Homo sapiens: one gene and its partners. The protein of the gene in region 2 interacts with the protein of the main gene of each other region in a pairwise test. Each region holds a gene or a part of one and is shown on either strand. Other genes may lie near its edges.

What was found.
Region 1: the proteins of PSMB1 (region 2) and CYTH4 interact in binary tests that used the Homo sapiens proteins (3 or more experiments, as listed by UniProt).
Region 3: the proteins of PSMB1 (region 2) and KRTAP7-1 interact in binary tests that used the Homo sapiens proteins (3 or more experiments, as listed by UniProt).
Region 4: the proteins of PSMB1 (region 2) and JAKMIP1 interact in binary tests that used the Homo sapiens proteins (3 or more experiments, as listed by UniProt).
Region 5: the proteins of PSMB1 (region 2) and CTAG1A interact in binary tests that used the Homo sapiens proteins (3 or more experiments, as listed by UniProt).
Region 6: the proteins of PSMB1 (region 2) and OIP5 interact in binary tests that used the Homo sapiens proteins (3 or more experiments, as listed by UniProt).
Region 7: the proteins of PSMB1 (region 2) and PYCR3 interact in binary tests that used the Homo sapiens proteins (3 or more experiments, as listed by UniProt).

The regions. Positions count from the first base shown.
Region 1 is NC_000022.11:37,292,233-37,296,334, forward strand, and holds part of CYTH4 (cytohesin-4), read left to right. Parts: intron 1-369; exon of another isoform or gene 370-388; coding exon 389-471; intron 472-2,427; coding exon 2,428-2,492; intron 2,493-3,766; coding exon 3,767-3,833; intron 3,834-4,102. UniProt on the Homo sapiens protein: Promotes guanine-nucleotide exchange on ARF1 and ARF5. Promotes the activation of ARF factors through replacement of GDP with GTP.
Region 2 is NC_000006.12:170,539,649-170,543,750, forward strand, and holds part of PSMB1 (proteasome subunit beta type-1), read right to left. Parts: intron 4,083-4,102; coding exon 3,953-4,082; intron 1-3,952. UniProt on the Homo sapiens protein: Non-catalytic component of the 20S core proteasome complex involved in the proteolytic degradation of most intracellular proteins. This complex plays numerous essential roles within the cell by associating with different regulatory particles.
Region 3 is NC_000021.9:30,828,152-30,831,312, forward strand, and holds KRTAP7-1 (keratin-associated protein 7-1), read right to left. Parts: upstream 1,609-3,161; 5' UTR 1,548-1,608; coding exon 1,284-1,547; 3' UTR 888-1,283; downstream 1-887. UniProt on the Homo sapiens protein: In the hair cortex, hair keratin intermediate filaments are embedded in an interfilamentous matrix, consisting of hair keratin-associated proteins (KRTAP), which are essential for the formation of a rigid and resistant hair shaft through their extensive disulfide bond cross-linking with abundant cysteine residues of hair keratins.
Region 4 is NC_000004.12:6,193,661-6,197,762, forward strand, and holds part of JAKMIP1 (janus kinase and microtubule-interacting protein 1), read right to left. Parts: intron 960-4,102; exon of another isoform or gene 831-959; intron 1-830. UniProt on the Homo sapiens protein: Associates with microtubules and may play a role in the microtubule-dependent transport of the GABA-B receptor. May play a role in JAK1 signaling and regulate microtubule cytoskeleton rearrangements.
Region 5 is NC_000023.11:154,583,401-154,587,580, forward strand, and holds CTAG1A (cancer/testis antigen 1), read left to right. Parts: upstream 1-1,732; 5' UTR 1,733-1,806; coding exon 1,807-2,075; intron 2,076-2,751; coding exon 2,752-2,886; intron 2,887-3,125; coding exon 3,126-3,264; 3' UTR 3,265-3,416; downstream 3,417-4,180.
Region 6 is NC_000015.10:41,315,203-41,319,304, forward strand, and holds part of OIP5 (protein Mis18-beta), read right to left. Parts: intron 1-4,102. UniProt on the Homo sapiens protein: Required for recruitment of CENPA to centromeres and normal chromosome segregation during mitosis.
Region 7 is NC_000008.11:143,606,692-143,611,492, forward strand, and holds the start of PYCR3 (pyrroline-5-carboxylate reductase 3), read right to left. Parts: upstream 2,885-4,801; 5' UTR 2,858-2,884; coding exon 2,767-2,857; intron 2,186-2,766; exon of another isoform or gene 2,073-2,185; intron 1,436-2,072; coding exon 1,371-1,435; intron 442-1,370; coding exon 262-441; intron 1-261.

The DNA of each region.
Region 1 (4,102 bases), on a different chromosome or scaffold from region 2:
ATGCGTGCCTTCAGCGAGTGTTTAACTGAGTGCTTATGACATGTCAGACTCTTTCTAGGTGCTGGGGACACAGTAGTGAGCAAAAGAGTAGAACAACTGAACTCTCATGGAGCCGAGAGTCTAGCGGGAGGGACAGAAAAGATGCAAGGAAACAGGATCCTTTTGGGGGTGTCTATCCAGGGGGGTGGGAGAAACAGGAAGCAGGGCAGGAGAGGAGGGAGCAGGGGCTGCTTTAGACAGGGCAGTCAGGGGAGGCTTCCTGGAGGAGGTGGGCCTCTGTGAATAGGGCAAGTCCTGGGTTTCCGGAGGGAAGGGGGCCCTGCAGAAGTGAGGGCAAGTGGGTGTGGCTGGAGCCAAGTGATGGGGAAGGCCGGTTGTCTCTCTGTAGAGCCCGCGGAGCTGAGCAGCGGGGAGACGGAAGAGTTACAGAGGATCAAGTGGCACCGAAAGCAGCTCCTGGAGGACATCCAGGTGAGTGCACACTCGTGTCCACACACGTGTCCATGCCCACACTCCTGCACGCTTGTACGCACCCCACCAGCTCCTGACCCAGCCTGGTCAACAGACAGTGTGGCCAACTCTGGCTCATATCAGCCTCGGCCCCAGCCCCAGGAGCAGGGAGAACAACAAGACTGCAGACACCCCGAGACCCAGGGAGAACTGGGAGAGCCGGGGAGGGAGGCAGCGATCCAATTAGGCGCCCACCGTGTGCCGATCCTCATCCTGGCCTTTACTTGCTTTGTCACAGGGCAGGCTCTGACCCCTGTGGTGAAGCTTCAGCCAGGTCTCACCCCTGCAGAGTGTAGACCACCTGGTCAAGATAACTCCCAGTATGTGCCCTGCACTTACCACTTCACCAATCAGACTCAGACGTCAGCTCATCTGGGTCAGCAGCTTCTGAGACAGGCTGGGTTCTGTTCCTGGAACGTGCCTTGCTCAGCACTGCCCCTGGGCCTTTGCACTCGCAGTCCCCTCTGCCTGGGCTGCAGTGGCTGTGCCCACCCCCACTCCCATGCACATAAACTTAGGATTTCAGTGAGGAAATGAAGGCACAAAATTATTCACTCAGCTGCTGTTTCATTGAGCACCTACTATATGCCAGGATTTCTCTACCTTGCTCTGATGGTGTTCTGCATAGTCATTCCAATTACCCTATGACCACCCATGATCCCAGCCCCACCAGACTGTGCCCTCCATGAACACAGAGCCGAGGTCTGTCTTGCCCACCACTGCATCCCCAGCCCGCTGGGTGCAGCATTAATAGGTGCTCAGTTAATACTTGCAAATGAATCCCCATTGTATTTGTGGGGCAACCACTCAGTGGCTCTGCCAAGATGGCATGAACAGGAGCTGACACGGCTCAGACACAGGCTCCCAAGTCCCATGCTGGCCCTGAGTCTCAGGACAAGTCCCTGGAACCAGCCCCTCACCAGCACCCTGCAGATCCTGGGGAGAAAGGGGCTGGGTGCCTAATGGGGGTGCCGGCCAGAGGCTCATGCTGGTGTCCTTCAGGGGGTGCTGGTGGTTGGCAGGGGGAGGTGTTAGGGGGTCCCCTCTGCCACTGGGTGCCTCCTGCAGGGTCAAGATGAAATGGGCTTGGGGTCGAGTTGGGGGAAGCACAGGTTTGGAGTCAGACTGCGGGCGTGTCGTGTCATCTCTCTACGCCTCAGTGTCCTCTTCTGTAAAGTCCAGGGGAATTGCAAAGTCCCTGGAAAGAGGGCCTAGGCTGCCTGTGCGTGGTGTCCCCGTAGTACCTGGCAGGCACATAGCGGGCACTTAGTCAAGGGTGAGCAACATAGTAAATGGAGGAAAGCCAGAGAGAAGCTGAGGAAGCAGTAGGGAGCCATGGGAGGGGTTTGAGCAGGGGAAGGGCAGGCTCCATGCAGTGCTCCAGAAAGACACCAGCCGGGAGAGGCAGGCAGGGTGGAGGCGGGCAGGGTGGAGGTGGGCTGGGGGAGGTGGGCAGGGTGGAGGCGGGCGGGGGGTGCAGGCAGGGTGGAGGTGGGCAGGGTGGAGGCGGGCAGGGTGGAGGTGGGCTGGGGGAGGTGGGCAGTGGGGAGGCCGGCTTGTCGGGTAGGCTCGGCTAGAGTGCAGGAGACTTCATGGCTGCAGAGAGGAGAGATGGGAAGGTTGGAAAAAGGATGGGCAAGGGATGGGGGCTTGGGGAATCCCACTCCCCAAGACAAGTGGAGGCATGGGTGCAGACAGAGGTGATAGTTTAGCATGCGACTTAGAAATTATGAGACATCCAGGGAGGGGACCTGTCCATGGAGGGTCCCTCAGACTGGGGACTCAGGACAGAGGTCAGGGAGAGGGGCCAGGTTTGAGAGTCGTGCCCAGGGGTAGGAGTGGTCCTTGTGGTCTCAAACCCCCGGGGTTCTGGCCTCCACCCCTGACTCTCCCTGTCCTGCCCCTGCCACCCCACAGAAGCTGAAGGATGAGATTGCAGATGTGTTTGCCCAAATCGACTGCTTCGAGAGTGCGGAGGAGAGGTGAGGGGCTTGGGTGGGGACCCCCAGAAACTGCCATGGTTGCTTCCCAAGGATGTCATACACCTTGAATGAGCAGGGGCCACTCCCAGCCCCCTGGACCTGGTGAAATCAGGGATTGGCCAGGGAGAAGGAGGCAGCAACGAGACCGGAACAGGGTGGCCCCGGCCCCATCCCGGGTCTGGTCCCTGCTCCCAGGCTGACCCTCTCTTGAGAGACACTGCGTCCTCCCCTCCCCCAACCCAAAGTCTCTCCTGACCCACTGTGGTCCAGCCCTGACCGATCACTGGCCACATCCACCCTGGGATGGGCGGGGAGAAGGGAAGCTCAGCCCCAAGGGCAAGGACAAGGAAGCCCAGGGCCCCAGGAGGACAGGAGCCTGGCCCTACCCCACCCCACTCACCACTAACCCCGGGCCAGCCACGCCCACCGCCTCTGTGGAAAACTCCCACTATTTTGTGATCTGGGACAGATCCTGTCCCTCTCTGGGTCTCAGTTTCCCCATCTGTGCAACAAGAAGGTTGGTTGCTACACAGTCTCCTAAGGCCCCAGTGCACTGACTCTGACACACGATGTCCTGGCAATTTCCCATCCTGCGCCCGCCACTCCTTAGGTCTCCACCTGTCCAGCCTCCTCCCCTCCCCCACCACACACATGCACACACACACACGCATGCACACACACACAAGCATGCACACACACACAAGCATGCACACACACACAAGCATGCACACACACGAGTGGCCGTTTCTCCAGCTCCCCTGTTCCAGCCACAACAATGACAACATAACACACCTACGCCTCACTGTTTTAGGTGCTTTAACCTCTCAACAATGCTGGGAGGCAGGTGGTGGTATCACCTCCATTTTATAGATGAGGAACCTGAGGCCCAGAGAGAGGAAGTGACTCGCCCAAAGCAGCCCGGCTCAGATTCGCATCCAGGAGCCTGGCTCCAGCACCTGCGTGCTCAGCCCTCGCCCCCTCCCCCGGTTTCTTGCACAGGGCCCCTCCACCTTCTCCCACACGGCAGCTCCGGGTTCCTGCAAGCTGCTAAATGCCCGTGCTGGGCCCATCAGAGAAGTCAGCTGCAGAGCTCTGGGAGGAGCCAGGCCTTGCACTGCTCTCTCCCGCCCAGGTGGTTCCCATGCAGGACCCGGAGGCCACACTTGGAGGGCCCTAGAGGGGTATGGGCTCCTGCTGAGGCAAGGGTCCTTGGGGAGTGGAGAGGGTAATTCAGGGTCCTGGGGCAGCCCAAGCTGACGTCCTCATGTCCACAGCCGGATGGCCCAGAAGGAGAAGGAGCTGTGTATTGGGCGCAAGAAGTTCAACATGGACCCCGCCAAGGTAGGTGGCTGTGGAGGGCCCGGGCCACAGGGTGTGGGGGCTGCATGGGAGCACCTGCCTGGTGTCCTCTCGCTCCCCTCGGCTGACACGACCCCTTTCCAGAGGAGGAAGCTGTGCCCAGCAGAGCTGAGCATCTTGTCCAGTGCCCCATGGCCAGCTGTGGCTGGGCGCCCTGTCTACTCCCAGGCATACACGCCTTGGGGCAGGAGGAGCCAGGAGCATGGAGGAGGCCACGGTGTCCATGCACTTGGCCTAGTCCCTTCCCCACT
Region 2 (4,102 bases):
GTACTGGCGTATCCTTCAGAAAGAGTATACTCAACAAAATACAAAAAAAAATTTATCTGACCCAATACTTCAACTACTCGAAGTTTATTCTAGCAAGACAAGCATAATTGGGGAAGTACACAAAAATGTATGTACAAGGATGTTCATCATAGTGTTTATATTAAGAAAACAGGAAGCCAAAATGCCCTTTAGAGGACTGGTTAGGTAAATGATGCTATGTATTACAGCAGCAAAAACAGAAGACAAAAAAATTTTTTGTTAATTAAATACAAAAATCATTATGCATATAGCTTAGATCTCCTTGATAATACATAATGTATAGTTACAGAAAAACAGATACCAAAGTCCTACTTACATAAAACTGCATGAGTGTATGTATAAACATGTACTGATTGTTTTCACTACAGAAAAACTAAAGCCACTTTTAATTTGGGAGAAAAATTTTTAAAAGGCATGAGAGCAGCTAAGAGATTAAAGACAGAGAGGTTAGTGCAGACAGCGGTTGACACCAAGGGAAAGAGCTGTGGACCTTGCTGTCCTGAAGGTTTCAATATGGAGCACTGCTCTCCAGGTCCCTGCATCCACCAACACAGAAGACAGTAAAGGAAGTCTCCTGAGACATTAGCAGAGGCTCTGGACTTAGGGGACCAGGCTCTAGAGTGGCAAAGGGTAGGAGCAAAACACATGAAATGGAAAGTTGATGTAAACAAAACACAGACCTTCAGCCCCCTTCCTCCTCTGAGGCCTAAAAAGCTGCCAACCGGGCTTCTCTTCCTGTAGTCCCACCTCACCTCAGGAAAAAAGATTAAAGAAATTCTTCATCTGAAGAAAATGCTGCTTACTTAAGCACCCAGTTAACGGCTGTCAGTTGACAAGCCATGTCAACAAGGACTTTCATAATCAAATTTTGGTACAAGACTCTTCAATGTGAATGGACAGCAAAAAAAAAAAAAAAAAAAAAAAAATCAGAGATTTGAAGGAAGCCTCTAACATAGAAGACAGAGGCCAAAAATGAACACATAACATGAAAAAAAAAACATTCTGATGAAATACAGAAAACTGCAAAGAAAGTAAACAGGATTTTTTTTAAAAAGACAAAAAATAAGTACAAGCTCTTGGAAATTAATGACACCAGAAATAAAAGCAATCAGTAAAGGATGAAAAGCTAAAATTAAGGAAATCTTCATAAAGTAGAACAAAAAAGACAGACATGGATAACATGGGGAGTCAAAAATAAAGTACCGGGTCATAATCCAGGTGGTTGTGGAGAAGGTGCAGAGGGGTAGGGGAGGAGGAGAGGAAAGAAGGTGGAGAAAGAGGATAAAACAAATAAGAAACTCTAGGCAAGGAACATCACTATACAATTTCAGAACACCAGGGTAAAGAAAAGATCCTAAAAGCAAAGTCTCAAAAAGGTCCCGTTTTGTTTTTTTCAGAAATCTTTTAGGAGGTAAGCCTCTAAAATAAGGAAATAAATCAAGAAAGAGGAGAACACAGGATGTGGGGGAATCTCAGGATGGCAGTGGTCCATCCTGGAGCAAGGGGAAAAGGGATCCACCTAGTATGTGAGGTCTGACAACCAGATGAATTGTACTCAGAGAATGTACAAGGAACTGACAAAAAGTTTAAAGAAATCTGAGCCAATTAGAGATAGTTAACTTAAGAAAAAAATAAAAACGAGTTACACAAGAAAGAAAATATTAATGCATGCTACTTGGCGCAACAAAGATCAATATCTATCTGGTCATAATAAAAACATTAAAGGTCTATGTTACCAAAAGTGTAATGTGTTAAAGGAGGATGCTAATGAGGAAGAGGACACAAAAGAGCTAAGAACCATCATCTACCAGAACAAAACACCAAAAGATATCTCAAAAGAGTGCAGTACAAATACAGAGTTTTGGAAAATGGAGGTAAGTACCAGGAAATACAGGTAAAAGAGCTGAAAACTGTCTTAGGGCAATGGAAAAAAAAGATAGAGGACTGCTTTATTATTCACACAAATTCCTCTATAAAATAAAAATTAGTTTAAAGAACACTTAAAAGCCAACCAGACAGACAAGCTTAGAAAGACAGTTCTAGAGACACCTGAGGTTGTCACCAAAACTAGCAACACTGTTACATGGAAATCAAAGAACAGGGCTCTGAAGTGAAACAAAAGCCAAACCTGAATCTTAGGTCTGCTGCTTAGTAGGTATCAGCTTTCCCAGATTAGACTCTCTAACTCTCGGAAAAACTCAAAGGATGCTGTCTGGCCTGCTGAAATTCAATGGCAGCTCAGCTATTTTTAATGTTGCTAAAATCTGAATCTATTAATCTGACATTAAAGCCAGGCATAATGTAAGTCAAAAAAGACACCAGAAGCATCCAGCTTGCTAAGTTAGGCAAATTAATTTGTAGCTAGACTCTAATTACCCATGTTAAAGGTAATTCATTTCTATTTTTACTATTTCTACACTTTACTTTTTCTCTTGGTTTTCAAGTAAGGTTGAAAGCCTTAAAAAGAAATTGTGTCAACCTAATTTGTCTACGCCTAAACCATGGCAGGTAAAATGATCAGAATGTTCCCCAAGGCTGTGTATGGGGGCGGATGTTAAGAGTCAGAGATAGCGCACGCAAAGAAAACGCTCATGGAACAGAAAGCGATAGGAGTCAACAACCGAGAGGCAGGGCGCTGAAATGAAGCTTGACCCTTTCCTCTTAGAATTTTCCCTCACAGGATTTAGGGTCCCCAGTCCCCTTGCTTTCTTTCTGTGTCCAACTGAGATGTTCTGTGATGTGGCCAGCCGCATGTATTCCCCTGGAGGCTCTGACCCAAGCCAAGGCCTGCCTTGAACATTCCCAGGCGCTGACAATGTTGTTTAGGCTATTGCTTGAAACACTGAGAAATTACCCCTGTTGCTAAACACACAGAAACTATCCCTGGCCCTGAACCAAATTCCTTCAACACTCAAATCAACTCCCTCACCTTGGACACATCTTTTCCTGCTGTCTGCTGAGAGGACTGCTGCAGCACTAAATGCTTTTGACTGATTACCCTGAGATTTAGTGTTCTGGAACCCCAACTAGGTTCGGGGCAGTCCCTTACAGGAATTCCTCTGCCCCTACTTTTAGGGCAACTTCAGCCACAGGTTCAGCCAGAAGGAACACAGAAGATGGGCTTACTCCAATGATATCCTCATCTAGACACTTCTGTAACTTCTTATCTCAATGGACTACTCTAAATGACACAGATGGACTACTTATCCATCTGTGTCAATGGACTACTCTAAGTGACAAAGATCTGTCCTGGGACACTGTACTTGTATTTGATTTTTAGATGCAACCAAAAGCCAATCCAAATGAGAACATTTGGATTGCAAATGAGAACAAATGGATTGGAACATTTGGATGGAAAACATTGGTGCCCATGTGGCGTAATGCAGCTCTGGAACAAAAATGGGATGGAATATTAAGTAACAAGACTTAATATTCTCAGGGAATCCTGGTCTGACTCTGACAAAATCAGAGAGGTGTTTCAAAAAGTTCTGAAAACACTGGAGTAGATGCTTATTATTAATTACCCCAAATGACTTCTAGAACCGTTAAAGAACTTTTTTGAAGTGTATTTGTTAATAAAAAAATTTTCAATACTCAGAATCACATTTAGGTCAAGCTTTCTAGGTCCGATTTCTTTCTATAAGATAAAAATGCCTAATTATTTACTACTAACTCATGCAAGTTCCTGAGAAAATAGCAAAATAACTGGCTGCTCAACATTCACTATTAGAGCTTCAATGTGCCTTTGGAGGTCATACATTAGCTTCAGTTTCTTCATCACTTTCATTATCAGAAATGAAATGAGAATTGTGTCAGATGGTATTTATGGTTCTTTTCAACTCTAGATGGATACACACATCTAGGGAATAATAACTCCTCCCCCCCACCATTTTCCAGAAAGAAGGAATTCTACCTTCTTCATCAAGTCCACCGATGATGTTGTAAACATAGTATGGAAAGAAGCGCCTTGAATACAGGATTGTAGACAGCATTGCAGCAATTGCCCCCGTAGTCATGGCCTTATTATTGGAATGCTTATACATCTGCAATTATTGATAAAAGT
Region 3 (3,161 bases), on a different chromosome or scaffold from region 2:
TCATCATTTTTTATGGCTGCATAGTATTCCATGGTGTATATGTGCCACATTTTCTTAATCCAGTCTATCATTGTTGGACATTTGGGTTGGTTCCAAGTCTTTGCTATTGTGAATAGTGCCGCAATAAACATACGTGTGCATGTGTCTTTATAGCAGCATGATTTATAGACCTTTGGGTATATACCCAGTAATGGGATGGCTGGGTCAAATGTTATTTCTAGTTCTAGATCGACAGGGAGCATTTTCTAAGTGTAGACAACATACCATTTCAAGTGCTTTTGATGGCAACTATTATTTCAAAGAATAAACACTTCATTTTTAGTACTAGTTATATGTATAATCAGAGGTGAAGAAAGTGGAGAAAATAAACCCATCTATCAAAAAAGGATAAAAAATAATATGTGATTTTAGTAGTTGGCTTCCCTTTATTGATCAAATCTTAGGAACTCTTAAAGATAGAGTTTCATAACTAAGTCTATTTAGTTCCAATTCTTCCAACAACATGAGGGGTTCAAATCTCCCCAGAGCTGAGTTCTATAAACAGTAGGAAAGGAGAAATGAACCAAAATGGAATCTTGTCACTAAGGAAAAGAGAAAAGAAAACATGTTTTAGCATTCAACAGCTAAGAAATATTCCTGTTTTATAATCAGCTTTGAGAAACGCCAACAATTGCAGTATATCTGGGTTAAATACGGGACATTTCCAGGGAGTTTTTTAAATTGAAATATCAATATAAAAATAAAAAATGGTTAGGCATCACCCTATCCTGGCTATATAGTCTGAAATCAGAATAAAATTTGGTTAAAGTCAACCATTACGGGTTTAAACTGATTGATGAATTCAAGAGCATAAAAGAGAAGTGAAATAAATAACCAGGACAAAAATATTTATGCTGAAGGAAATAGATTTATTAAGAGACTGACAGAAAATCCCCTTACTACCCACACCCAATTTGTAATACATTAATGTTGATGTAGAAGCTAATAATACATGAGCAGAGCAACCATGGGAGGCAAACTACTTTTTCACTGTTAAAATTCAAGTATGACCAAAAAAATGCATCTTGCTTCCTTTGTCTGTAGATGAGTATCAGTTCAGCACCTGAGTCCTGGGTGACTTGTCCAACAGCATCAAAGACAAAGACCACAGCAAGAAGTCAGCAAGAAGATGGAAGATGTATCACCCAAGCACATGGGAAGGTAGGAAGACAGTCATTGCTCTTCAGGTTGTTCTGTGCAGAGAATTAATTGAGAGTCCTGTAGTCACTGGAGCCATTGGTCCATCAGTAGGTGCTGTAGCCAAAGCCAGAGCCAGAGCCCCATGGCCTATAGAAGCTACCACCATAGCAGCCGCCCAGGTTGTTGATGTTGCTACCACCAAAGCTGTAGCCCAGGGAGCTGTAGCCATTGCATCCACAGCCATAGTTCAGGGGAGAGCCCAGAGGCACAACACAGTTCAAGGGGGTGGCTCTGAAGGTCCCATGGAAGTTGGTCCCATAGATAGGGTATCCTGGGAAGTAGCTTCCACAGCAGAAGTAACGAGTCATGGTGGCAGCAATTGAGAAGGATTTAGATGGATTGTGAAGGGTAAGTTACCCAAGTGTTAATGAAGGTCTCTTCCCGTACAGGGCTTTTTATACCTCAAGCTGGTGGGCACAACACATCTGTCTAAACATCTTCCCACTAATTTGCATAGGTAATCTCATTCTTTTCTAATAAAATGCTTATAAGGAATGCACAGACTCATTGCCCACATTTTTGTTGGCTTTTCTCTGTACTATTTTAAAGCCAGTGACCATGCTTGACACGCAATCGAATTCTTTTCATCAGAGTCCCATAGTTTAACTACTGTTCTTGATTGCATCATGTGAGACTCTTTAAATCCTCTGATTATAAACTCTTCCCAACTGACATAGCTAAACTAAAAAAGCTTTGGCAAGAATGCAAACACTTCAAGCCAAGACAAAGCCATATATTGAGGTCTTTTGAACATTATTTTGAAACATCAAACTGAAATTCTATAACCTCTTGAAATTCACCCATGTGCCCTTTTAAAACAATTGTATACCAACTAGTTAATGGGTACAGAGTTTCCTTTTGGAGTGAAGAAAATCATTTGGAACTAGACAATGTTGCAAAACATTTGGAATGTACTAAATATCACTGAATTGTTACCTTTAAAATGCCTTGGTTTGTGTTATACAAATTTTAACTCAAAATGTATTTTTTATTTTAAAAAGCACTGCTACACAAATCTATCCAACCAGGTGTTTTTACAGAGGCTGCAATGGTGCCAAATAATAAGTTGGCTGTGAATAACCTGCAAGTAATTTTCATCAATTTCATTTATGAGCATTCTGTTTGTTAATACATATTTTATTTTTTCATGGAGAACATACCATGTTTGCTTGTAAATCATCTTGAACATTGCCAAACTGTCTTTCTGGAGTTGCCACACTGGCGCTGAGTGGGATGATGCTCAATTTCAGAGTCATGTTATACCACACTTGCTTCTTACTGACTCCTATAAAACAAGCCTGAATGCCATGATCCATTATGAAATACCAGTTATATTTAAGGATGCAACACTTCCTTCTGCTCTTATTTTGCCTTACATAACCAATTCTCATGAAGAACGTAAACCAGGAAGGATCTGAGCTCAGCAAAGCTAAGTCTATTCCAATTCAAAGGTTTACGACATCATCTTTTTATATGTGAATCAAAGTCAGAATTCTCTGAAAGTAGAAGAAAAAACTTCCTGAATACCAATTCCTTTTTTTATTTCCATCTTAACAGACAATCACAGAGTCCAATATGCAAAACTAATCATTCCTCTCAGACATCCCTCTCTCTTTAAGATTCTATCTCTCTCAGTTTCTCTGACAGAGAGCTGCCTAAAGAATGTTCTATAAGTGGATATGATTTCTTTTATTCTACAAATTAATTAAATGTCATAAGAGTATATAGAGAAAGTTAAAGAAAAATAAGTTATAATTTCAAATTCAGTTTAACAAAAAGAATGAATTAAAATGGTAAGAGGTTGTGTCCTCAGGGTTTAAATTATATAAACTCTGTATCAGATAATCCAGAAAACTCAAAAATACGTTTGTGATTAGGAGAGGGCAGGGGTGACTAAGAATTACGCGTGACTTGAAAAATTT
Region 4 (4,102 bases), on a different chromosome or scaffold from region 2:
TCTTGCTTGGAAAATGAGGAGCCGACAACCATTCTGCAGGTTTCAAGGACAAGTCAAGGCTGGGAGCCCCCAGCACGATGCTGATCATGGGAGGCTGAACTGATGCATTAGTGAGCAGGGGAGGAGAGGGTGGAAGAGCCTGCAGAATAGGACCTGAGCAGCCAAAGCCCTGGGAAGAAAATGTTAACACCCTGAGCACTGCTTCCAACACCAGCCGCAAAGGTGAGAACGACCCCAATGTCCATCCACAGATGAATAGACCATTGTGTTGTATACGCACCATGGAATACTACTCCGCCATGAAGAAGAAGGAAGCAATGACACTTGATGACACTTGCTATAACATGGGTGAACCCTGAAAATATCAGGCTAAGTGGAAGAAGCCAGCCACATACGATCTGGTTCTACATCTGTGAAATATCCAGAACAGGCAAATCCAAGGAGACAGAGGGCAGATGGATGGATGCCGGGGCTGGGAGAGGGGAAGTGAGGAATGACTGCCCATGGGCACAGGGTTTGTTCCGGAGGGAGGAAAATGTTTTGCAGCTAGATTGAGGTGACAGTTGCACAACATCGTGAATGCAGTAAATGCCACCGAATTGTACCATTGAAAACGGTTTACAGTAAATGAATTTCACCTCAATTTTTTTAAGAAAAAGAAGGGGAAAAAGAATTGCTTCAATGGAAGACACAGGTTGTGATCTCATTCAATACAGTCCCATGTCAGAACAAGCAGAGAGGGGTGACCAGCCACCAGATGCAACAGGATAGGGTGAGAGAAGACAGGAGACAGAAGCTCCAAGGGTAAAAGATAGTGGAAAGCTACTTACCAGCTCACTCCTTGCCTCCACTGTCAACTCCTCAGAGTCCTCATGGAAGGAAACCCTGTAGTGATGTGTCCCACCCCCTCCAGTGCTGTGGAGGGACCCGGGTCAGTCCAGGCTCCTGACTCAAAATGCAGCCAAGGGAGAAGCTCAGAGGCCAGCACACCGAGCCAGCGCCTCCCTCTGACCTGGCAGGCATAAGGGTATTTCTGCCACAATGAGCACCCACTGGCAGTCCCTGGCTGGTGCACACAGAACCCCTTTCATTCCTTAAAGTGGCCCTTCAGCCAGTCTAAGCCACGGTGGGAGACAGGAGAGCAGGCAGCCTGTACCCAGGTCCTCCCAGGCCAGTTGGGAGTTTTAGGATGTGCAGTGGGTCCTGAGGATGCTTGCAAGCCCTGGAAAGGATAAAGGGGCCACCTCAGACCACACAGAGGGGAACAGGCTGACCTAACACAAGTGGGCGGTGGTGCCCAACAAAGGGACCCGCCACTGCAGCTGCTGTCCACGGCGTGATCCTAGACTAGGCCTTTCACCTCCGTTCTTTAGTCTCATCCTCACAACCGAGGGATGTGCAGGGACCAGACTGGGGTGATCCCCATTTCCCAAATGAGGAACCTGAGTTGCAGAGGGTTCAGGGGGCTGCAGACAATGGGACAAGAATAGCCGGTAAATGGCAGAGCCGGTGCTCAAACATAAGTCTGATGTCAAAGCCTTCTCTGCTAAATTGTGATGCCACTAACATTTGTTTTATTCCACAAAACTCCCACAAGACAGCACATGGCATCAGTGAAGAATGTGGGCTGCAGGTGAGGATGATAGAGAGTTCTAGAGGTGGATGGTAGCGCTCGTTGCTCAACAGTGTGGATGTACTTCATGCCACTGAATTGCACACTTAGAAATGGTTAATATATTAACCATGATTAAATATTTTAATATATTTAGTACATTAACCATGATGAAAAAATATTTTAAAAAATGATCAGGTGCTAGGCCATCAAGGAATTGTCAACAAATTTTTGAAAATAGATATCACACACATTCTCTTAACATGGTAAAATTAAATTAGAAGCTAATAAAAATATAAATCTCCCTGCTCCTGTCCCCTCCCCCACAAAAGAACATGGGCTTCTTGGCTTCAAATCCCTGCTCTGGAACATACTCGCTTTATAATCCCTGGCGAGCTTCAGAGCCCCTCTATGCGCATCTATAAAATAGAAATGCAGGTGTGCGCCTCCCTCTGGGACTGAATGGGTTCAGTCAGACCAGGGACAGCACAGACCAGCGGGAGGCAAACTCCTCCTGGAAAAGGCCAGGGAGTAAATGTCTTTGGCTTCCCAGATGTCTCCCCCAGCTGCTCAGTTCTGCCAGTCTGGCACAAATGCAGCCACAGACCATACATACACAAATGGGCGTGGCTGTGTTCTAATAAAACTTTATTTACAAAAGCCCCTGGCATAGATCCTGGCACTTGCTAAGTGCCATTCACACATGTTAACTGTTATAATGAAGAAAAACAGCCTTTCTGTCCATTCACCTCTACAGACTTATGAAAGGCATAACACTTCGGGTTGCAGTTCTGAAAACCAATACTAACATCAAAGGCAGGAGGGATGCCCCCGGCCCCACTGGGGAGCTGCCCCTCCCACACTCTGAACTGCCTCTAGGTGCTTTCACCACGGGCCCTTTCTCCTCTACTTTCCAGTATGAGGTTGGTGCAAAAGTAATGGCAAAAACCGTGATTATTTTTGCATCTAATAGTGACTGTGGCCACTCCCTGCAAGCGCTCCTGCGTCCCACCTCCTACAGGGCTTCCTAACCCAGCCCTTCACAGCATGAGGCCCCCACAGCTCCTTCCCTGTCCCTGCCCCTCCCTGCTGATCCACAGCCCCCTGCACAGTCCACCTGGCCTCAGAAAAGAATGAGCAAAGAAAATACTTTCTGAAGGCATCCAGGGCTAGAGTCAGGATGCTGTGGTCCCACCAGTGGCCAGCCCTGGGGTCACTGTCTGAGCCTCCACTTACAGCAACACCAATGGCCACTACGGACATGACGGTGACGTGCTTCCATTAAAAGCACCAAGAAGGGGCCAGGTGCGGTGGCTCACGCCTGTACTCCCAGCACGTTGGGAGGCCGAGGCGGGCAAATCACCTGAGGTGAGGTCAGGAGTTTGAGACCAGCCTGGTTAACATGGTGAAACCCTGTCTCTACTAAAAATACAAAAAAATTAGCCAGGCATGGTGGCAGGTGCCTGTAATCCCAGCTACTTGGGAGGCTGAGGCAGGAGAATCACTTGAACCCAGGAGGCGGATGTTGCAGTGAGCCAAAATTGTGCCATTGCACTCCAGCCTGGGCAACAAGAAAGAAACTCTGTCAAAAAAAAAAAAAAAACAAAAGCACCAAGAAGGCTTTCTGATTTATTCTCATGCCATCCCTGTTGGAAGGTCATTTTCCGTTACAAGGGTCAGTGTGCTCCGTGGGGCAACATCTGAGGCCCGGAGTCAGGGAGCCCCACTTCTGAGTCCCCCAGTGTCCTGAGACTTGGCTCCCTCTGCGGTGTTCACGTAGACCTCACCCTGTGTGGTGCCCGTGCAGCAAAGATGAGATAACCCGAGGCAGAAGCGGGAGGTTAAGTGCTGATATTTCCTTACGTGGCCCTCATTCCCCTTATCCAGACAAAAGAAGTGAGTACAGGGGCTAAGCGACTTGCCCAACGTCACACTGTCAGTAGGGTGGGAGCTGGTCCTCAACACAGTTCCACTGACCTAGCCTGGTCCCTCATACCTCTCAGCCCACCACAATGGTGGCCACTGCTCTGATCATTAGTTTCATCGTTAGCTAAAGAAGGACCCCAAATGTGGGCGTGGGAGTTTGCTCTGTGACAAGGCTAAATGAATAAATATTCTCATAGCTTCTTCACCATCATCACCCCTCATAAATCGGCTACCTTTGCTCAGAGACCACACCTCTGATCCCCACACCAACCTAGCCAAAGAGATGCCACTGCCCCCTTTTATACAGGAAATGGAGGCTCAGAGAGGTTAATCTTCTTACCCAAGATCACACAATGACAAGGGATAAACTACAGGCAAGTCCAACTTCAGAAGCCCTGCAGGTTGATCCCGTCGCCACTATGGGGAGAGGAGTGACCCAGCAGAACTGGGACACACTGCAGTCATCCTCAGACTCCCCAAGGGAAGCCCCCATTTAGTTAGAAAGCCCAGCAGGGAGGCACTTGCCCAGTCACAGCTAAGTGAGGCAGGGCCTGAATGGGAACC
Region 5 (4,180 bases), on a different chromosome or scaffold from region 2:
CTAAGACAGGGTCACATGCACTTTACTCTCCCTTCCCTGACCTGTTGAAGGTAAGAACTTTAGCCTGCCTCTGTCTGAGAATGGGGAGACTGAGCAGAGGACGACAGGAAGGATGGCAATCACTAACCGGGTTATGTCTGATTTTCAGCTATTCCAGGTGTTAACAAGTTGTGTTCTCTGGTTTTTAAAATTCATCATTTAATGAAATATATGTAATGAAATACAGCAGTGAAAATAATAAACTGGAGGTACACGCAAGAGCTTGGGTGAATTTTTCTTTTCTGTAAGTAAAAACATTTTTAACTGATGTATGATAACTCTGCATATTTATGGGATACATGTGATATTCTGATACATGCACACGCACACACGATGTAATGATCAAGTCGGGGTATTTAGGATCTCCACCACCTCAAGCATTTATCATTTCTTTTTTTGGGGAACATTTCCTATCTTTTAGCTATTTTGAAATATACAATAAATAATTACCTATAGTCCCTCTACGGTGCTATCAAACACTAGAACTTAATCCTTCTATGCAACTATATGTTTGTCCCCATTAACCTCCCCACCCTCCCCACCTTTCCCAGCGTCTGGTAACCATCATTCTGCTCTACCTCCAAAAGATCAACGTTTTTAGTTTCCACATGAGTGCCAATATGCTTTTCCCAGGTGCAGAGGCTGCTGATTCCTGGATTTGGAAGGTGGGGGAGAGTGGTTTGGATTTCAGTACCTCCCCCTTCCTCAGGGCTAGGCCCTGTCTGGTCACCTCCTGTTGCTACAGGTGTGCCTGGCACAGACATTCAGCTCCCGGGGCCGTGCCGCCCTCACCCCTGCATGCCTCTAGAGGTACCTGTCCCGTGGATTTGACCCCCTTCCAGACACACAAATAGATCACCACTGAGCAGACACAGGGTCACCTCCCAGCTCCCTACCAGGCAAGAGCGACCAGGGCAGGGACTGATACTGCCGAACCCAGGAGCCAGGCCCGACCCAGCCTCAGGTCCAGCAGGTCCCGCCTGTCCACCTGGGCCAGGCCTAGAGCCCGGGAGCCCCTGGCTGGTGGGAGGCCACCCGCAACCCACCCCACACGCAGCTCCAGCTCCCCCACCAGGCGGGGCGACTAGGACAGGGACAGAACCCGTTGAACCCAGGAGTGAGATCCGGCCCCGGGTCCCGCTGGGCCCTCCCGTCCACCTTGGCTGGACCTGGCGCCTGGGAGACCTTGGCTGGCGCGAGGCCACGCCCACCAGACATGCAGTTCCAGCTACCCCACCAGCTGGGCGACCAGGACAGGGACGGAGGCTGCTGAGCCCAGTTAGAGGCCTGCCCCCCGGGGTCTGTCCTGGGCGCTCCCCCAAGGACGGACAGGGCAGGCAGGGTCCGGGACGATGGCCGCACAGTCCCGGCCCCGTGTTCCCAGGCCCGTCTTGCTCCTCGATGTGAGGGAGACCCGGGGGATGGGACAGGCTGGGCCCCGCAGTGCCTGACTCCCTGCAGGGCTCCCGGGACAGGGGTCCGGCGGACAGCCGGCTGCTCAGGGGTGAGGGGTCCAAGCTGGCATTGCGGCCACCTTCCGGCCCGGGCTCTCTTGGGGAGGGGCGGGGTTGGTGAGAACCGGTCACGTGCTCCGGGGCTCACTCGGGGTCTCCCAGGGCCGGAAGTAGGGCCCCTGTGCGCAGGCGCCCTGAGGATCCCGGGCTGCCCATCTCACGCCAGGGGGCGGAACTTCCTGCAGCCTCTCTGCCTCCGCATCCTCGTGGGCCCTGACCTTCTCTCTGAGAGCCGGGCAGAGGCTCCGGAGCCATGCAGGCCGAAGGCCGGGGCACAGGGGGTTCGACGGGCGATGCTGATGGCCCAGGAGGCCCTGGCATTCCTGATGGCCCAGGGGGCAATGCTGGCGGCCCAGGAGAGGCGGGTGCCACGGGCGGCAGAGGTCCCCGGGGCGCAGGGGCAGCAAGGGCCTCGGGGCCGGGAGGAGGCGCCCCGCGGGGTCCGCATGGCGGCGCGGCTTCAGGGCTGAATGGATGCTGCAGATGCGGGGCCAGGGGGCCGGAGAGCCGCCTGCTTGAGTTGTATTCTGTTCTGTTCTGTTCTGTTCTGTTCTGACAGTTCTGGTGGCGAGGTGGGGGCCGGGAGATGGGGAGGGCAGGGCCAGGTGGGGGAGGAGGCGGGGGAGATGCGAGTAAGTGGTTGGGTGGGGGTGGGGGTGGGGGTTGGGAGGTGGGGATATGAGAGGCCAGCTGCGAGGAGGGGAGGAGGTAAGGGCTGGGAGGTAGAGGGGGTGGGGGTGGGGGAGAGGGGCTGGGTGATTGGGTGAGGGGCACCGGGTCATGCGGGGAGGGGAGCAGGGGCCAGGAGATAGGGGGACCCAGGTGTAGGAGGGGATCAGGAGGTGGGGGGAAGGGGGCAAGATGGGAGCGGGTGGCGGGAGGTGGTTGGGATGGAGGGTCGAGTGATGAGGAGGGGGCCGGGTGATGCCACAGGGGGCAGGGTGGGGAGGGGTCTTGTAAGGGCATGGAGGAGTCAGCTTGGGGTGCAGCAAAGGAAAGTGGGGAACCAAGACAGCTGGGTGGGGTGTGCTACTGGGCCAGTGCCTGGGGAGACAGCCTGGGGGGGATGGGCTGGGCAATCCGGGGTAGGGGGGAGGGGTGGGGGAGTGGGGGAGGGGGAAGCTGGCCTGGGGTAAGCAGCAGGCCGGAGCCACAGGCCAAGTCCTAGGAGAGGATGCCTTAACTGGGCCCCCACCAGCTACCTCGCCATGCCTTTCGCGACACCCATGGAAGCAGAGCTGGCCCGCAGGAGCCTGGCCCAGGATGCCCCACCGCTTCCCGTGCCAGGGGTGCTTCTGAAGGAGTTCACTGTGTCCGGCAACATACTGACTATGTCAGTTCAGGACCAGGACAGGGATGGGGCCTGGGTGGGTGGCGGTCACAGCGTGGCAGGGTGGGGGCTGGGATCCGCCTACACCCCACGGTCAGGCTGCTAGAAACCTGGGAACACCCCAGCACAGGGTCTCAGAACAGAGACCTGGTACACCAGGCCCGCCGCCACCCGAGGGAGCCCAGGGAGATGGGTGCAGAGGTGTCGCCTTTAACGTGATGTTCTCTGCCCCTCACATTTAGCCGACTGACTGCTGCAGACCACCGCCAACTGCAGCTCTCCATCAGCTCCTGTCTCCAGCAGCTTTCCCTGTTGATGTGGATCACGCAGTGCTTTCTGCCCGTGTTTTTGGCTCAGCCTCCCTCAGGGCAGAGGCGCTAAGCCCAGCCTGGCGCCCCTTCCTAGGTCATGCCTCCTCCCCTAGGGAATGGTCCCAGCACGAGTGGCCAGTTCATTGTGGGGGCCTGATTGTTTGTCGCTGGAGGAGGACGGCTTACATGTTTGTTTCTGTAGAAAATAAAACTGAGCTACGATTCCGTGTCTGAGTCTCTTTTCGGCGAGCGAAGGCACCTTCGGACTTGCATGCCCTTGTCCTCGGGTTGCAGGGGAGGCTCTGGGATTCACAGATTGAAGTAGCACAAGGTAACGGGAGGCAATTTGGGAAATGGGGGAAAATGAAAAGCCACTGGGTCCCGCCATTCAGCATTAACTACTGTGGACATTTTAGAATATTTTCCTCAATATACTTGCATTTATATGTTAAATATATGACAGTAGCATATATAATGTTTTTCCAGGTCAGCATTAAATTTTTTCCCAAATTGTTTTCATTGAACATATGAGCTTTTTTACTTGGGAAAAATTCTTTGAAAACGTACTTGAATAGATGCATAGAACCAGCATTATCATATCACTGTTAAGCATGTGATATGGGTTGGGCATGGTGGCCCACACCTGTATTTCCAGCACTGTGGGAGGCTTGAAGCGGGAGGATGGCTTGAGACCTGCAGTTGGAGGCCACCCTGGGCAATGTAGCGAGATTCTGTCTGTAGAAAAATCATTAAAAGGCCGGGTGCGGTGGCTCATGCCTGTAATCCCAGCACTTTGGGAGGCCGAGGCGGGCGGATCACCTGAGGTCAGGAGTTGGAGACCAGCCTGGCCAACATAGTGAAACTCCATCTCTACTAAAAATACACACACAAAAAAACAACAACAAAAAAACATTAGCCAGGCGTGGTGGTGTGTGCCTGTGATCCCAGCTACTTGGGAGGCTGAGGCAGGAGAATCACGTGAACCT
Region 6 (4,102 bases), on a different chromosome or scaffold from region 2:
GGGGATCACCTGAGGTCAGGAGTTTGAGACCAGCCTGGCAAACATGGTAAAACCCCATTTCTAATAAAAATACAAAAATTAGCAGGCTGTGGTGGAGCGCACCTGTGGTCCCATCTGCTTGGGAGGCAAGGCAGGAGAATCACTTGAACCTGGGAGGCGGAGGTTGCAATGAGCTGAGATCACACCACTGTGTTCCAACTTGGGTGACAGAGCAAGACTCTGTCTCAAAAAAAAAAAAAAAATTTATGCTGATGAAAAGGGGGAATTTTCTTGTGTTCCCATACTCTCCATATCCTTTTCCTTCATGTTTAGGATGCTATCATCAATAGATGTAATGACTGTAATTGCAGCAGCCATCCCGAATCCAAGAGGAAAAGGCCAAAGTTTCTACTTAATCAAAAAGAATGTCCTGACCTTTTATCCAACTCATTTTAAAGATTAAGAAATTAACCAAAATCCCATAATGCTTTTCAAATTTATGTTAAAAATATGTTACTAAAAGCTTACTGCCCTAACAAAAATGCAATTATTGCTTCTCTAGAACATTTACTTTTGTACTGATTTCTAAAAAAGATGTGGGATTACTAACAGCACACATTTACAGTTTTTTTTCCCACTTTAAAGTTAATTCTAAATAGAAATTGCTTAAGAATCTAGAAATTGGTGGCGCAGTGGCTCACACCTGTAATCCCAGCACTTTAGGTGGCCAAGGCAGGAGATCAAGACCATGCTGGCTAACACGGTAAAACCCCGTCTCTACTAAAAATACAAAAAAATTAGCCAGACATGGTGGCGGGCGCCTGTAGTCCCAGCTACTCGGGAGGCTGAGGCAGGACAATGGCGTGAACCTGGGAGGCGGAGCTTGCAGTGAGCCGAGATGGTGCCACTGCACTCCAGCTCCAGCCTGGGCGAAAGAGCAAGACTCCGTCTCAAAGAAAAAAAAAAAGAATCTAAAAATTGAGGCTGGGCATGGTGATTAATGCCTGTAATCTTAACATTTTGGGAAGCCCAGGCAGGAGAATCACTTGAACCCAGGAGGTGCAGGTTGCAGTGAGCTGAGATCATGCCATTGCACTTCCAGCCTGGGTGACAGAGTGAGACTCCGTCTTTAAAAAAAGAGAATGATCAATCCATCTCAGGATCTCAGGTATATATTTTGTGTTGGAAATTTGCAATGAAGAACAAATGGTATACCTAATGCACAGTGAGCAACCCATGGTAAAGGACTGGCTGATAAGTTTTATTGTTTAGTCAACCATAACTCAGCTAAAAACATCTATCTAAGCATAAGAAATGAGAAAAAGCGGCCGGGCGCGGTGGCTCATGCCTGTAATCCCAGCACCTTAGGAGGCCAAGGCGGGCGGATCACGAGGTCAAGGAGATCGAGACCATCCTGGCTAACACAGTGAAACCCCGTCTCTACTAAAAATACAAAAAATTAGCCAAGCGTGGTGGTGGGCGCCTGTAGTTCCAGCTACTTGGGAGGCTGAGGCAGGAGAATGGTGTGAACCCAGGGGGTGAAGCTTACAGTGAACCAAGATCACGTCACTGCACTCCAGCCTGGGCGCCACAGCAAGACTCCATCTCAAAAAAAAAAAAAAAAAAAAAGACATGAGAAAAAGGAAACCTTTTAGTTTTATGAAAGGAAAATAAGCTTTTGAGTTAAGACATGCTCAAATCTCAGCTCTTCCACCTCTTTGAGCCCTAGTTTTCTTAAACTATATTAAGAACTCAGTGATATAAGCATAATGCCTACATAAACTAGGTTGTCAATGCTTGTTTTTGTTTTTTAATGGTCAAGGAAAGACTTCTAAGGATGTTTCAGTTTCTTGTAATAAGTAAAAAAGCTTAAGTTAAAAGTGCAATTTATTAGGAAAATAATGAAATAGCCAATGTAATTCATGAGAAAGGATAACCAGTAGGGTAGTTTTTCTGACACTATGAGGCTACATGATCATTATTTTTACTTTTCTCTGTGTCTGCTTCATGTTTTACTGCAGAGAAGACTTCCCTGCAGCTACATGCATCACATGGGAAATAGCTATCCCATACATAGAGCTTTCACTTCCAAACTTCAACACTAGTACTATCTACACGTAACTGGTATTTCTGGGCCCTTGTTTCAAATTCCTAAGGTAGAAAACTGGTTGGCTTAGTTTGGGTCAGGTATCCATTTTTCTTTTTTTTTTTTTTTTTGAGACAGAGTCTCGCTCTGTTGCCAGGCTGGAGTGCAGTGGCGCGATCTTGGTTCACTGCAACCTCTGACTCCCCGGTTCAAGTGATTCTCCTGCCTCAGCCTCCCAAGTAGCTAGGATTACAGGCATGCGCCACCATGCCCAGCTAATTTTTTTTGTATTTTTAGTAGAGACGGGGTTTCCCATGTTGGCCAGGATGATCTCGATCTCCTGACCTCATGATCTGCCCACCTCGGCCTCCCAAAGTACTGGGGTTACAGGCGTGAGCTACCACGCCCAGCACCGTTTTTGGTTTTTAAGAGACAGGGTCTTGCTCTGCTCCCCATGCTAGAATACAGTGACACAATCATAGCTCACTGTAACCTTGAACTCCTGGGCTGTAGCTATCCTCCCACCTTAGCCTCCAGAGTAGCTAGGACTACAGGCATACACCACCATACACAGTTAATATTTTAAATTTTTTGTAGAGACAGAGTCTTGCTATGTTGCCTAGGCTGGTCTCAAACTCCTAAGCTCAAACAATCCTCCAACTCAGCCTTCCAAAGTGCTGAGATTACAGGCATGACCCACCATGCCTGGCCAGGTATTCATTCTTGATCCAGTACCTGGGAGTGGGAATCACACATGATACAAATCACACATGATACAAATATACAAGGCCCCACCTATTAGAGGGAGAGAGAGGCTGGGCACAAACCCAAAAGGTATCTACTGCAACATTATTTTGCAAAAGCTTGCCTTCTAGAATGTTCTTTTTATCTTTTATTTATTTTTATTTTTTCTGAGACAGAGTCTAGCTCTGTCACCCAGGCTGAAGTGCAGTGGCTTGATCTTGGCTCACTGCAACCTCCGCCTCCTGGGTTCAAGCAATTCTTCTGCCTCACCTCCCGAGTAGCTGCGACCACAGGCGTGTGCCACCACACTTGGCTTATTTTCGTATTTTAAATGGAGATGGGGTTCCACCATGTTGGCCAAGCTGGTCTCGAACTCCTGACCTCAGGTGAACCCCCGACCTCAGCCTCCCAAAGTGCTGGGATTACAGGCGTGAGCCACTGCACCCGGCCCATAAGGGAGCAGTTTGAGATGGGAGGCTTCACCATGTTGCCTAGGCTGGTCTCAAACACCAAGATTCAAGTGATCCTCCTGCCTCAGCCTCCTGGGTAGCTAGAATTACAGGCACACACCACCACATCTGGCAACAAGTTTCTTTAATGAAAGAATACCCTCTGAATTTTCCCATGGTATGACTTTTAAGATATGGTATGATAAGACATGGAAGATAATCATAATGTTATAAGATTATATTTTGGTCCCACTGCTTTTTTTTTTTTTTGTCACCCAAAGTGGAATGCAGTGGTATGATCACAGCAAAATGTAACCTTGAACTCCTGGGCTCAGGTGATCCTCCCACCTCAGCCTCCCAAGTAACTGGGACTATAGGGGCACGCCGCCACATCCAGCTAATTTTTTAAAATTTTGTATAAAAAAAAAACAGGAGTCTCACTATATTGCCCATGGAGGTCTTGAACTCCTGCCCTCAAGCAGTCCTCCCACCTTGGCCTCACAAAGCATTGGCATTACAGGCGCGAGCCATCACACCTGGCCCACTGCTATCTTTTTGTCAAAGACAGTGCCTGACTTTAGCATCTTTTTGGTACAAACACTTTGTCTTTTTTCTTTTTTTTTTTTTTGAGACAGAGTCTTGTTCTGTCACCCAGGCTGGAGTGTAGTGGTGCAATCTCAGCTCACTGTGCAACCTCCACCTCTCAGGTTGAAGCAATTCTCTTGCCGCAGCCTCCCAAGTAGCTGGGATTACAGGTGTGCACTAGCATGCCCAGCTACTTTTTTTTTTTTTTCCTTTGGACAGAATCTCACTATGTCTCCCAGGCTGGAGTGCAGTGGCGTGA
Region 7 (4,801 bases), on a different chromosome or scaffold from region 2:
AGGTCAGAATCAGGGAGTCTGTAGGACTGGGCCCTGCTGGGCAGGCCCCAGCAGGGGCCTCAGGAAAGGTCCACGTCAGCTCGCGGTGGGCTCCAGCGTCTGCCTCCCAGGTACAGCACCAGGAGGGAACCCTAAATCCAGCCACTTGATCCAGGTGGGCCACACGGCCACCTCTCAGGCTCTCTGGGGGGCTGCCTGCCGCCCAAGCCTGGCCAGCAGAGCCTATACTGGGACCAAGGCCTTAGCCCAAGGGACACTCACCTCCTCCAGGGTGCTCAGAGACACCCCAGCAGCCACGGACACCAAGATGTGTTCAGTGGTGACCACAGGAGCCACCTCTGCCAGGACAGCTGGCAGCACATGAGGCTTGGTGGCAAAGATGACGAGCAGGCAGCTCTGCAGCACCTCCTGGTTGGAGTGCGTGGTCCGGCAACCCAGAGCCTGCGCCAGGGACACCAGGACCAAGCCTCAGGGGCCATGTAAGCGGCGCACCCTCTCCATCACAGCCCTTCCTGCTGGATGCCACACGTTCCCATGGTCCCAGGGCCTCTCCCATTGCAAGTGTCTAGACCACCCCGACTTCTCCAGTGCCCAAGACTCCCCCAGACTAGCCCTACTCCTCACAGGCCATCCTGATGTCAGCGCCTCCCCAAGCCCTGAGCCCTCCATCCCCAGTGAATGTCTGTGACCACCACCCAGCATGCAAACACACCCATGCACATGCACGCACTCACGAGCATGCATTCATATACACACACGCAGACACATGCACTCACGAGCATACATACACATGTACACATGAATGCACTCATGAGCACAAACACATGCACACACACCCACTCGAGCATGCACTCATGTGTACACGCACGCACTCATACACGCACACACGCACTCATATACACATCTGCACAGGCACACATGCACAAGCACATACGTGCACTCACGACCACACAGGTGCACATGCACTCATGAGCATGCACTCATACACACACGCACACACATGCACTGACATACATGCACTCACCACACGTGCACACGCACACACAAGCGCACGTGCAAACGCACATGAGCACATACATACACACATGCACACGCATAGCCTCACATATACACACGTGCATATACACACACTCACGGACATGCACTCACACATGCATACACACACACACACAAACACTTTGCTTTGGCCCTCCACAACCTTACTTTCCTCCTGGCCTCTAATCTCCCTTTTCCCAGCCCAGACCAGCCAGTCTGCAAACTTCAGCTAAATAAACCACCCATCCCTGGCTCTGATAAGTGTCTTAGTGGGACAGGAGCCAAGAGCTATCCTGGGCTCCTGAGGGTATGAAGAACCTGGGCTCTATGCTCACTTGAAAGTGACATAGGTTCCTGTCTGTTGGTGCACTGGCCAGTATGTGCTGAGCTTCCACTTTTCCTGGAAAGAAAGGAAAAGGAAGAGGGGTTGGTGAAGGGGTGGGATAGGATGGCACGGAGAGGAGAGGGAGCTCACTTGGCCTCTCAGGCTCAGCCACGCCTGGCCCATCCTGGGCCCCCTCCTGGCCCCAGGAACCCAAAGCGGGATGCACCATTCACTGGGCCCAGGCAATCAGATCCACTGATTCTACTTGGCGGTCAACGCCCCTGACTGCTGCTGGGTATGGAGGCCAGGAGCTTACCTCATTGGTGAGGACACAGATCCCTGGGGCCTCTGCCTCCAGGGAAGGGAAGGCTGCCTGGAGCAGAAGAGGCAGTACCTCTGGAGGAACACCAGGCCTTGGGGGAATGTGGTGGGTACAAAGGCAGTTGATTGGCCACAGAAGGCCCAATCGGGGCCCAGGTTCTTCGAGAGGGAGAGTCTATGCTGGAATGTCTAAGAAAAGGCTAAATGCCTACTTGGTAGAAATTATCTGCTTTTGTCGGGTACGGGGTGGAAAGATTGGGTTAGATTTTGGTAAGGTCGAACAGGAAGGCACAAGTGTACACCACAACCTGAACACAGCAATTAATCATGACAGTGGCAGCCAAACACACCAGTACTAAGCTCAACACTAGACATTTATGTCTCATTTAACCTGTACAGCTCTGGGAGGCATGCGGTACTGCCAGGTTTCACAGGGAAGACTCCTGAGACTCATAGTAAGCTATTTCCCGATTGATCTTGACTCTTCTGGACCCTGAAGTATGGCTGAAGGCAGAGAGTCAAAAGTCACCCAGCTCTCCCTATCCACAATCTGCAGAGAGGCTTCTAAATGCCTGGAGGAGTATATGGTCAGCATAAATATTCCGGGTATAAAGCAGTGTTTCTCAACAGGGGATGATTTTGCCTGTCTCCTCCCCCCACCCAGGGGACATTCGGCAGTGTCTGGAGGCATTTTTGGCTGTCACAACGTGGGGGTGCTGCTGGCACAGGATGGATAGTCTGGCCCAGGTGTCCCTAGAGCCAAGGTGTCTGGGGGAGAAGCCCTGCTGCTCCCCATGAGAGGGGCTGGCGCGCAAAGAGAAAATCAGAGGCTGGAAGAGGTGAGCCTGGCCAAGGCCACGCGGCCAGGAAGCCGGCCACGGAAGCGGCACCTAGCCACGTGTGACTCAAATCTTCCCGCAGCCACGTCAAAAAAGTAAGAGCAAACAGGCGTGGCCCCGGCTGCGCCCAGCGGAGCGGAGACCCGGTTGGCTGGGCCCGCGCCCCCGGCCCCACTCTCGCGGCAGGACACCTCCCACGGGGCTGCTCCCACTCCAGACCGCAGGCCTAGCCCCGCGCCGCCCCACCTGCTCTGATGAGGCCCTGCGCGATGGCCCCCGCCATGCGGCCCGCGCCCACGAAGCCCACGCGCCGCGGAGACGGCTCCGCAGCTGCCATCTTGTTGCCTCGGACGCCGCTGCGCTCACCGCCCATCCACAGGCCGCGCCCCGCCCACAGATCTAGGCCCCACCCCCGCCCTCCAATAGGACTCGCCTCCCCGTCCCCACCCTCGCCGATTGGTTACTGGGACGGCACACTCCGGCCGGCTTTTTGTCCGCACTCTACAAGTTCGCAAGGCGCGGGAACCCCGCCTCTCGCTGCTTATTGGCCCGAAAGGGCTATGCCGCCCCTCACTGCCCATTGGCTGAGAGAAACTGGGGGCGGGGCCGTAAGGGGCGGGGCCGGCGGGGTACTCGCGCTCGGAGAGGCCGGAGGAGCGGGGAGGGGTCCCGGTCGCGCGTGCGAGGAGCACATGTTGGTTTTCCGGAGGGGAGGGGTAGCGAAGCGGGTTGCGGGGCTGGTCCAGAGCGTGCGGTCACTGAGGCCCCGCCGACCACAGACGGTGGAGCTGCGGGGAAGCACTAGGGGCGGAGACCCAGGTCACGGAGAGCAGGCCAGGGCCAGGGGCCTGAGACCGACGGAGGGGACAGTCGGGGAGGGGGTACTCGTCACTTTTAATGACACAAGGAAAACAAGGCTTGAAGATCTGAGTGCGGTTTTTTCATCATCCAATCTAAAGCTGCATGTTACATATGTTATTTTCTTTTGAAGCCTTTGACATTTTCTTTTTTCTTTTTTTTGAGACGGAGTCTCGCTCTGTCGCCCAGGCTGGAGTGCAGTGGCGCCATCTGGGCTCGCTGCAAGCTCCGTCTCCCGGGTTCACGCCATTCTCCTGCCTCAGCCTCCCAAGTAGCTGGGACTATAGGCGACCGCCACCACGCCCGGCTTATTTTTTTGTATTTTTAGTAGAGATGGGGTTTCACCTTGTTAGCCAGGATGGTCTCAATCTCCTGACCTCGTGATCCACCTGCCTCGGCCTCCCAAAGTGCTGGGATTACAGGCGTGAGCCACCGTGCCGGCCCAAGCCTTTGACATTTTCTAAGCTCTTCAGTAATGAAATCCTCTCATTGATTCAACATTCACTGTGCAGCTGCAGCCTCTGGGCCCTGCTCTGGGCCTGGGCAAGATCACCCCACGGCAGCAGATGGGACAGGCTGGACCCCACCCTGCAGCCCTGCTTGGTGGCAGTGTAGACAGACTACAGTCAGCACACACGCAGGACAGCCAGTGTGTCAAGGCTCTGAAGCAAATGAGGTGGAAAGGGACAGAAAGCCACCAGGAGGCTGCTTCGGCCACTGCAGCCGAGAAACGTGGGTGGTGGACACTTTGCACCAGCACACAGCGTCAGCAGCTGTATCTCCTGCCACCTCGGATCCTCCCAGCCCCTTCCCACAGACTCCCTGGATTTTCTCCCAGGCCCCCTGGGCCAGTGATGGCTCAGGACCAAGGCTGTGGGGAGGTGAGAGGGGCCAGAGGCATCCAGTGCCATGCCATCATACATAAGGACAAAGCTCATCATAAACAAGTGGACTGAGGCGAGGTGAAGGAGGATTGCTGGCTGAGTGCCCAGGGCCACAGTGGGTAAAAGGAGGCCCAGGGGCCCAGCCCCGTTCAGCTTCTCCGTCCCATGCCGGGCTGGGCTTCTGAGCATCAGCTGGGAGCCCTCAGCTGACGTGGACACCCAGCCAGCCAAGGCTTGTGTCCAGGGCACCTCTCTGCTCTTGGCTGGGCTTCTTCCCACTGTTCACCTGGTGGATCCAAGCAGCCACATAGGCGCCACCCTCTCCAGGAGGCCTTTCCTGAACCCCCACATGGGCAGAGCCTTTATCCACAAAGGGCTGGGGCCAGGGGATACACTGTGAACGAGGCCAACCCGTCTCCTGGAGCTCGAGGTCCTGGGGTGTCAGCGGGAGGGTTAGGGGTTGAGGCGGGGCTCCCAGAGGTTTCCAGACAAACAATCCCAGCAGGGCAGGGTGGATGCTCCGAGAGGCGCTGTGAAGG